Regions from separate parts of the Homo sapiens genome. Here all the other regions are linked to region 2. A link means that fine-mapping ties the variant in region 2 to the expression of a gene that starts in the linked region. Tissue or cell type: atrial appendage. Region 2 holds a variant in brackets; each other region holds the start of a gene. All regions are shown on one strand. Distances are between the middles of the regions.

Region 1 (2,682 bases), 99 kb after region 2:
ATCCAGCTTTCCTTAGGTCTTCACGCACTAAGAGTTCTCTAGTCACAGAAATCCTAGCCTTGTCTGCACTCTCCACAACTATTATAAACTCCATGTTAGTATCAAGAGTTCCAGTAAAGACCAAATATCTCTTGGCCACCAACATCCCACATTAGGAAATGTGCATTACTAATTATTCTGTTTTACATTACTTCCTGCTCTAGGGGATGTATGTACAAATTCATTCATAGAAAATTGGTAAAGCAGCCGGGCGCATTGGCTCATGCCTGTAATTCCAGCACTTTGGGAAGTCAAGGTGGGAGGATCGCTTAAGCACAGGAGTTCAAGACTAGCCTGGGTAACATAGGGAGACCGCCGTCTCTATCAAAAAGAAAATAAAAGAAAAAAAATTGGTAAAGGACACACGTGATAACTGAAGTTTCCAGATGTGAAGAGAATTCTCATTCTCAGGCAGTGGACCCCCCCCCCCACTCCCCTCCACACTCCTTCCACCTTCCCAGGCCACCTGGCCTCAGGCTGAGGGGGAGGTGAAAGTTTCCAGGAACCAGAGGGCGTCCAAACCCAGCGGCCGTGCGGAGCTCAAGGTCCCGCCGCTGCTGTTGCGGCACCAGCCTGGCTCATGGACATCACCACGCACCTGCAAGGTCAGGTTTCTCTCTGGTGGCTGTGGCGGCTGCTACCCTCCTCGCCCATTTCAATCTTACTTTCACACTACATGACTCCACTATTACTTCCTGAACACTAGCTACCTACGCAGCTGTAATAGTGGACACTGTGTCAACCTTTAAGCTCGCACACTTATCAAACCTCGTTCTTCTATATTAAAAAGTGCTAGCTTCCCAACGGGACTATCCAAAGTGCAGTTGCAGGACCTGCCAGGAGCCCGCAGGGCTGCGGGTGGTTCTTGCGTAATCGCGCCAAGAAAGACCTGGTTCCAGTTTCAGGGACAACTCGCCCATAAACTTCTACTGCGCAACAGCATCTGCTGCTTTGTCTGACACTTGTTGTTTTCAAGTACCCCTAAAAAAGCGAAAGAAAGACTTACCTTTCTCGGAGGCACGAACCAAGCAGCCTAGAAGACAAATGCGCTGCTCGGAGAGACTGCCGCGGCAACCAACTGGACACCCCAAGAGCTCACTCCTCCGCGGTTTTATATTCCGACTTGCGCACAGGAGCGGGGTGCGGGGGCGCAGGGAGTGTGGGTAACAGGCATAGATTCCGCTTGCGCAATACGTGGTAAGAAACCAGCTGTGAGGGGCTGGCCCAACGCAGAGCGGCGCGAGGTCCGCTTGGCATCTACAACAATCGAGGGGCTAGTCCAGAAGTTCAAGGCGGGGTTACAGGTTGGGGAGGAACTGTTAAACTGTGGACTTTTTCTCACCTGTTGGAATAAGCTTCAGGCAAAACTTTGCCAACAAAAACCGGTCCAACTGATTTTAGACGAAAGTCCAAAAGCAGTTTAATGCAGGACAGATAATCTTTTCCACAAATGATACTGAAAAGACAGGACATCTATAGATTCCCCCCCGCCAAAAATAACCCTTACATAAAAATTAAGTGGCTAGATATAACTGTGACGAGTAAAATTACAAAACGGTTTTAAAAAACAACAAACTATTGTCTAAGGCTAGGCAAAAGGTTCTTAAATTGACATTAGTGGCAAGACCGGTAAAAAGAAATGTTGATGAATTAGACTCCATAAATTTAAAACTTTTGCTTTGTGAAAGACCCTGTAACGATACTGAAAAGGTTTACCTAGGAGAAAATATTTACAAGCCATATATCTGGCATACAACCAGTATCTAGAATATGTAAATAACTCAAAAATCAATTATTTTTAAAAATCCAATTAGAAAATAGTCAGAAGACATAAACAGACACTTCACTGAAGATATGCAGATGGCAAATAACCATATGAAAACCTTTAATGTCATTAGCCATTAGAGAAATGGGAATACGAGGCTTTCGTTGTTCTTCGCCTCCCACTAGGGCGGGTTGAGGGTCTGGCTCCAGTAGCCCCGGGTGCCTCTCACTCCTTGGGCGCAATGCTACTATCCTGGCAGAACCCTCGCCGAACCCTCGCAGGACGCCCCATCGGGTCCGCCAGCGGCTAGGAAGCCCGATTGTGTCGTTCCTTTTTCCCTCTGCGCCTCCCACCGCCAGTCCCTTTTCCAAATGCGCCTGCGTCTGCCCTCCACATCTCCGAGCTCCGTCTGGCTTCTTTCTCCCTTGCCTGTGAGCGCCTGGCGGCGGATGCATTGAAAGCTGCGCACCACCGCCTACCGAGCGTTTTGGGGAGTGTGTGGAAGTTGTTGGCAGCAGGTTTTGACAGCAGTACCCTATGGGCCTAGTCGTTGACGGTAGCACCTGGTTTTGTGTGCCCCAGCCAGCTGAGGCCAGGGTGTGTGGTGTGGGCCACTGGTACTGCTCTTCTGCCACTATAATCCCTCCCCCTACCAGGTACCTGGTGCGTAGAAGTCTAAAGACCTGTGAGGTCTAGCCTGGCGCCTGTAATCCTAGAGAATAAGGAGGTTGAGGCCAGGAGTTAGAGACCAGCCTGGGCAACATGGGGAGAACTTGTCTCTACTTTAAAAAAATTTAGCCCAGTGTGGTGGTGGCCGCCTGTAGTCCCAGCTATTTGGGAGGCTGATGTGGGAGGATCACTTGAGCCTCCCACATCAA
Region 2 (2,682 bases):
AATGTTACAAAGTAGCATAAATGAATAACATTTAAAAAGTTAAACCTCCAAGGTGTTTAAAAGCAGCATACGGGTATTTCTTGCCACTGCAAGAAAAAATCTGCCACTTTTCTCCAGGGTGGCTGAATAAATAGGGCAGCTTTTCCAGAGAGGCAGCCATAGTAGACATTCCATTATGCTACTGCATATTCAACTAGAGTATAAAATGTGAGCCCTCAGCCTGGAGGTGTTAATGAGTTGCCACTTAGAAGGACCAGGGAAGCAAATTAAGTGCATATGCATAAAGCAGTCAGAACTGCCAGCCCTCCATGCTGTCTGGAAACTGAGCTGCTCAGGCCCTCATCCTCTGTTCATCTCATCCCCTGATTTAGCAGCTGTAGTTGGTGGACCAGGTTCATGTGAATAAGACCATTGGCTTTTCTGCCTCCACTTCCCAGAACCATCTCACTCCAGACCCTGTCTAAACTAGTGAAGTTGAACACATCCAGTACTTGGGCTCATCATCAGAGAGATGGAGGTGGGTTGGTCACCAAGAGGTAGGATGCCCACTTCATTGTTGCTGAAAAACATGCTTTAAAAGCTTCCTAAGATTAATGATAGTTACTTTTCTCTTTTAAGTTATTTTTTCCTATATGGTTTCTGTTTTCTACAAATTCCCTGTTTCACTGTTGATTAGTTTTGGTCTGCATCATTTAGGTAGAGTCTTTCTTCAAGTATCTGCCAATCTTGGGCTGTCAGCATGTATTTAAGAGAAGGATATTAAAAAGCCAACCAGAGACTTGAAAGAGCATGAGTGGGGCTGGGGGCTTCATGGCAGAAGGGTCACAATCAGCAACATCAGTATCTCTGTGTCTTTTCTCTTTGACTGGTTAGGTTACTCAAAGAAGGCTGTTCTTTGAGTCTCCCATCCCCAGCTCCATATCTAGCCTGGAGACTGCCAGCCTTCTGAGGACCTGGTGGAGAAGGGAATAAGGAGTCCTTAGAATTCAATATGTAGATTTTCATCAAACCTTACTGTTTCCAGTACATTATCCCTGCCCTACACCCAGAATGGGGGCTAGATGGCCACCAATCCAGAGTCCATTTGGTTCACTGTCTCCAGAGAGTCAGTTTCTGTATTCTGTTTCAAGGAAAGGGGCACTTGTCAGCTTTGAGAAGCAATAGAGGTTATCCAGGAGTCTAAGTGCACTGTAAATAGATTTCCAACCGATCTTGTGGTTTTCAGCCCCCACTTCTGTCCCATCTCCTCACACTTTCACAGATCCCTGATGCTG[C/G]CAATTATGGAGTCCTGGATCTCTAAGGTCCCTATCAGCTTGCTTTTGGCCTCCCTCACTGCTGGCTGAGGATTCAATGTTCTGAGGTTGCTGAGTCAGTTGCCCTTTATCCTTTTGTCTTCCAGCTTCAAAGATTTTTTTTTTTTTGCTTTTTTTTCCCTCTCATGTTCTCAAAGGTTTATACCTTTAAAAGAAAATCCCTTTCAAAATATTTTTAATGGGACTGAAGGATCAGAAGAAAGACACATGTGTTCAATCTACCATCATTAACCAAAAGAGAGAAAATACCAACACAAAAAAAAGACATAGAGCACATGTGACGTGTGTATCTTGGCAAGATGCTGCTGCCAGGGATTCAGAGCCAAAAGGAGAGCCCAGGTTTCTTATATCACCTGTTTTCCTTAATGCAATCCCACAAAGTAGTACTATTTTCCATATTTATTAAGAAGGAACAAGTAATAATAAGAATTAGTATTATTGACTCTCTAGTATGACCAGCTGTATGTCTTTTAGGGCTTCCCTACAAAATACCACTGACTGAGTGGGCCTTAACAACAGAAATTTATTTTCTCACAGTTTTGGAGGTTCAAAGTCCAAGATCAAGGTGTTGACAAGCTTGGTTTCTCTTGAGGCCTCTCTCTTTGGCTTGCAGACGGCCATCTTCTACTGTGTCTTCATATGATCTTTTCTTGGTGCACAAGTATTTCTGGTGGTTCTCCTTCTGATAAGGACAGCAGTCATACTGGATTGGGGTCTCACCCATGTGATCTAATTTAACCTTAATTACTCCCTTAAAGACCTTAACTCCAAGTACAGTCAAATTCTGAGGTATAGGGGGTTAAAGACTCTAACATATGAATTTTGGGCAACACACAATTCAGTCCAGAACTAATCTGGTCATTTTATTTCCATTTCTTCATTTATTTCTCACAATCAGCCGAGGGTTAAGTATTATTATTATTATTATTGTTATTATTATATATGAGGAAACTTCTGTTTAGAGAACTTAACTAACTCTTAGACTGCACAGCTAGAAAGAGATTATGTATTTTGTTTTCTATTGCTGCTGCAACAAATTATCACAGTCTTAGTGGCTTAAAATTACACAAGTGTATTATCTTACAGTTATGTAGTTCAGAAGTCTGAAATGGGTCTTACTGGGCTAAAGTCAAGGGGCCAGAAGGCCGCATTCCTCTCTGAAGGCCCTCAGGAACAATCTGTCTCCTTGCCCTTTCCAGCTTCTAGAGATTGCTCGTGTTTCTTGACTCAAGGTTCCTTCCTCCATCTTCAAAGCCAATGCCAGCAGGTCAAATTCATCTCACATTGCATCACTCTGACCTTTTCTGCTTCTCTTTGTGATTATAATAATATATTGCTAATATGTTATTTATAACTATTAATAATATAT
Region 3 (2,682 bases), 120 kb before region 2:
AGACCCTGCCTCTGACGACATCCAAAAGATTCATTATACACAGCCTATTCAGGCGAAGCTACAACCGCCCCAGGAAATATAAACTGTGTCGGCAAAGACAGCAGGGGGGAGAGGAAGTAACTGATGGGAAGGAAGCTAATCATGTGAAGTTTGTCCAACTCCACACGGTCTAATAAATTCCCGTTTGTTTCCGCTGGGAGCAGCCATTAAACGCGCCCTGACACGTGGGCGCAGGAACCTCCCTTCTACCTCTGGTGTTCAGAGATTTCCTTCTCGACCCACTTGTTTGTATACAACCACGCCCGGCAGGATGACCACCAGATGACCGGCCGCAGCAATGCCTCCACTCAGTCCCAGTTGGGCAAAGTTTCACTCCACTGCGGCGACGTGAACAAGAATCACGGCTTCCTTATCGTGAGTTATGAATGATTTAAGCCAAGTTTACAGGACACACAAAGCGAGGGACGAGTGAGTGACGGGAGGTGCTAAGTGACAGCGTTTTAAAGTTAGCTTTAATTGATATGCCCTAATTAAAATGAAAAACAGAATTCACCCTGCCCCACGGGATAACTGTCGGGGCAATAATTAAAAAAAAAAAAATCACCCAAGACTAAGCCTCAACCTCCCCCTTACCACTTGCAAATACAGTCTGCAGAAAAGCAGCCTCGGGTCCCCACTCGGGGGTCCCTCGCGGGGTGCGTCATATGGGCTCTCCCCTCTGCGACCCGCTATTTCCCTGCTAGACCCCCAGCGCCCAGCGGATTCCAAGGCTGCGCTCCCGCCGGCTGGTCCCGGGAGGTAGAAAGTAGGCAGAGGGGCGTGGCGTCCCTGTCGCCCCCACATGCCAGCCCTCCTCCAACGCCTGACACCACCACAAGCCACGGCTGGGAACACTGGGGGCCTCCCAACCCGGCGCGGGGCGCACGGCCGCAGGCTGGCGAGGAGGCAAGCGAGCTCAAGGGGAGACCTTTCCTTCCACCCCCAGCCCTAGCCCCAGCCACAGCCGTGGGGGCGGCTTCCCGCAACCTCGGGCGGCCGCCCGTCGAGGGCGCGCGCGCCGTTTCTGCCTCTGGGTCTCGGTGTCCCTTGGCCCCTTCCTCCCCCTCCCCCCGGTCTCCGGCGCCCAGCGCCCAGACCAGTCCCCGCCCTCCAGCAGGACACTCTTCCCTCCTTCCTTCCTTCCTCCGCTCCCTCCCTCCATCTCGCTTCCCAGCACCCGGGACTCGGAGGCGGCCCCCGAACTCGCTGGCCGACGCCCCGCGCCGCGCCCCGACCCCGCGGGGACCCGACTCACCACCCGCGCCCGCCGCTTGGTACTCACCCGCCTGCCGGTGCGCTGCCCCGCCGTCGCCGCCGGGACTCGGTCTCTAAGGGCTCCTGGAGACGGCTCCGACCTCTCCTCCTCCTCCTCCTCTTGCTCCTCCGGGCGCCGGCTCCGCCTCGCTGGGGTGGGCGGGGCGGCGGCGGCCCCGGGCTCCTTCCTCCGCGCCGGGCCCTGCCTCCCGCCCGGACGCCCTGGCTGTGCTGTCCCGGGCCGGGGAGCCCGCGTTGTGGCCCCGCAGGAGGAGGGGCGAGGCCTGGCCTGTGGAAGCTCGGTGGACGTCTGGTCGTCTTTGGCCATCCCCCTTCCTCTAATTCTCATGGAGGACCTGAAGTTCTAGGACTTGAGGGCCCCCACTCTACGACCCGCCCCCGCGCGGGGCCGCCCTGACTCCTCGCAAGTTTCCTTCGCGTGCGAACGCCTCGCTTGCCCCTGTGCCAGCGGTCCCCAGGGCTGTGAGGATGAGCGCTGCCAAACCCCTACACGAAAGTTTGGTTCTGTTCCAGAAACTATGGAGGAAAACACGCATAGTAACATTTAAAGGGCCCTGGGGCCACGGAGAGAAGTTTCCCAGAAAGTGGAGGTATAACTGCGGATTATAGAATTTGTAGTACATCCACCCACCATGAGCTTCCCGTCCATCTGCCCCGACCCCCTGAAATTTGTTTCCGAATGTCCAGTACCTGGCAGAGTTCTGCCTAATGAATTAATGGGATTTGGTTGGTCTTTTCTGGAAGGGTTCAAGGTCGGGTAAATGGAGGAGCCATTTCCGCTTCCACAGATTTTGTACTATTCCTTTGGCCATTCGACAGACATTACCAAGCACCCGCTGTGTACCAACTGCGATGCTAAAGGTGATGGGAGAGGTACAAAGATGAATCAGACAAGGGGCTTGCCTTCTTGGAGTCCAGAAAGAGTAAAGAAGCTGGATGTTCAGAAAACCACTCAGCGGACTTCTAGAGTATTCCTAGGTAGCCGCTTTCTTGTTTGACAGGGTGGAGAGAAAAGAGGTGAGGCCAAAGTAGGTCACTTAGAACCAGTGTGGGCAGAGTCCACACTTGAAATGGAGTCTGAAAGCATTGGTGAGGGATGTCTGTGTATTGAGTTTCACCAACTGAGGACAAGTGGGCCCTGGGGAATCTGGGAACTAGGGACTGCAGTCAGGGCATTATATTCCCTCTTGCTTTCCTTCTGACCCCTAAGCAAGTTTCAGGTTTAGTGAAATCATTTGCACATGTAGAAGAGGTGTCACAGGTAGAGTAGGTGTATGAATGCATGCCTTGCCCCAGGAGTGTGGTCTTAGCAAGCTGCGGATGGCGGTGGTTTGTGGGATGCAAGCCACAGACTGCCAGAGGGGTCTT

Which allele goes with the higher level. Positions count from the first base shown, and alleles are read on the strand shown. Sizes are in standard deviations (SD) of each study's normalised expression. Not every link is listed here.
In carriers of allele G in region 2, the expression in atrial appendage of the gene that starts at base 1,125 in region 1 tends to be higher than with C alone (moderate effect, 0.71 SD a copy in GTEx).

The links. PIP is the estimated chance that this variant, and not a neighbour inherited with it, causes the effect.
Region 1: it holds the start of DIRAS3, and the variant in region 2 is fine-mapped to the expression of DIRAS3 in atrial appendage (GTEx, PIP above 0.99).
Region 3: it holds the start of GNG12, and the variant in region 2 is fine-mapped to the expression of GNG12 in atrial appendage (GTEx, PIP above 0.99).

Annotation. Positions count from the first base shown.
Region 1 is chr1:68,049,503-68,052,184 of GRCh38, forward strand. DIRAS3 (DIRAS family GTPase 3) reads right to left here and starts at 1,125. Exons shown (of 2, transcript NM_004675.5): 1 at 1,046-1,125. All of the region lies in intron 2 of GNG12-AS1 (GNG12, DIRAS3 and WLS antisense RNA 1), which reads left to right. It also overlaps the pseudogene ARL5AP3.
Region 2 is chr1:67,950,986-67,953,667 of GRCh38, forward strand. The region is part of intron 1 of GNG12-AS1 (GNG12, DIRAS3 and WLS antisense RNA 1); the gene reads left to right. Among named protein-coding and RNA genes, the nearest start is that of DIRAS3, 98 kb to the right of the region's middle. The variant C/G (reference allele first, on the strand shown) is at 1,275.
Region 3 is chr1:67,832,023-67,834,704 of GRCh38, forward strand. It overlaps GNG12 (G protein subunit gamma 12), which reads right to left and starts at 1,445. Exons shown (of 4, transcript NM_018841.6): 1 at 1,322-1,445. GNG12-AS1 (GNG12, DIRAS3 and WLS antisense RNA 1) reads left to right here and starts at 266. Exons shown (of 10, transcript NR_040077.1): 1 at 266-414.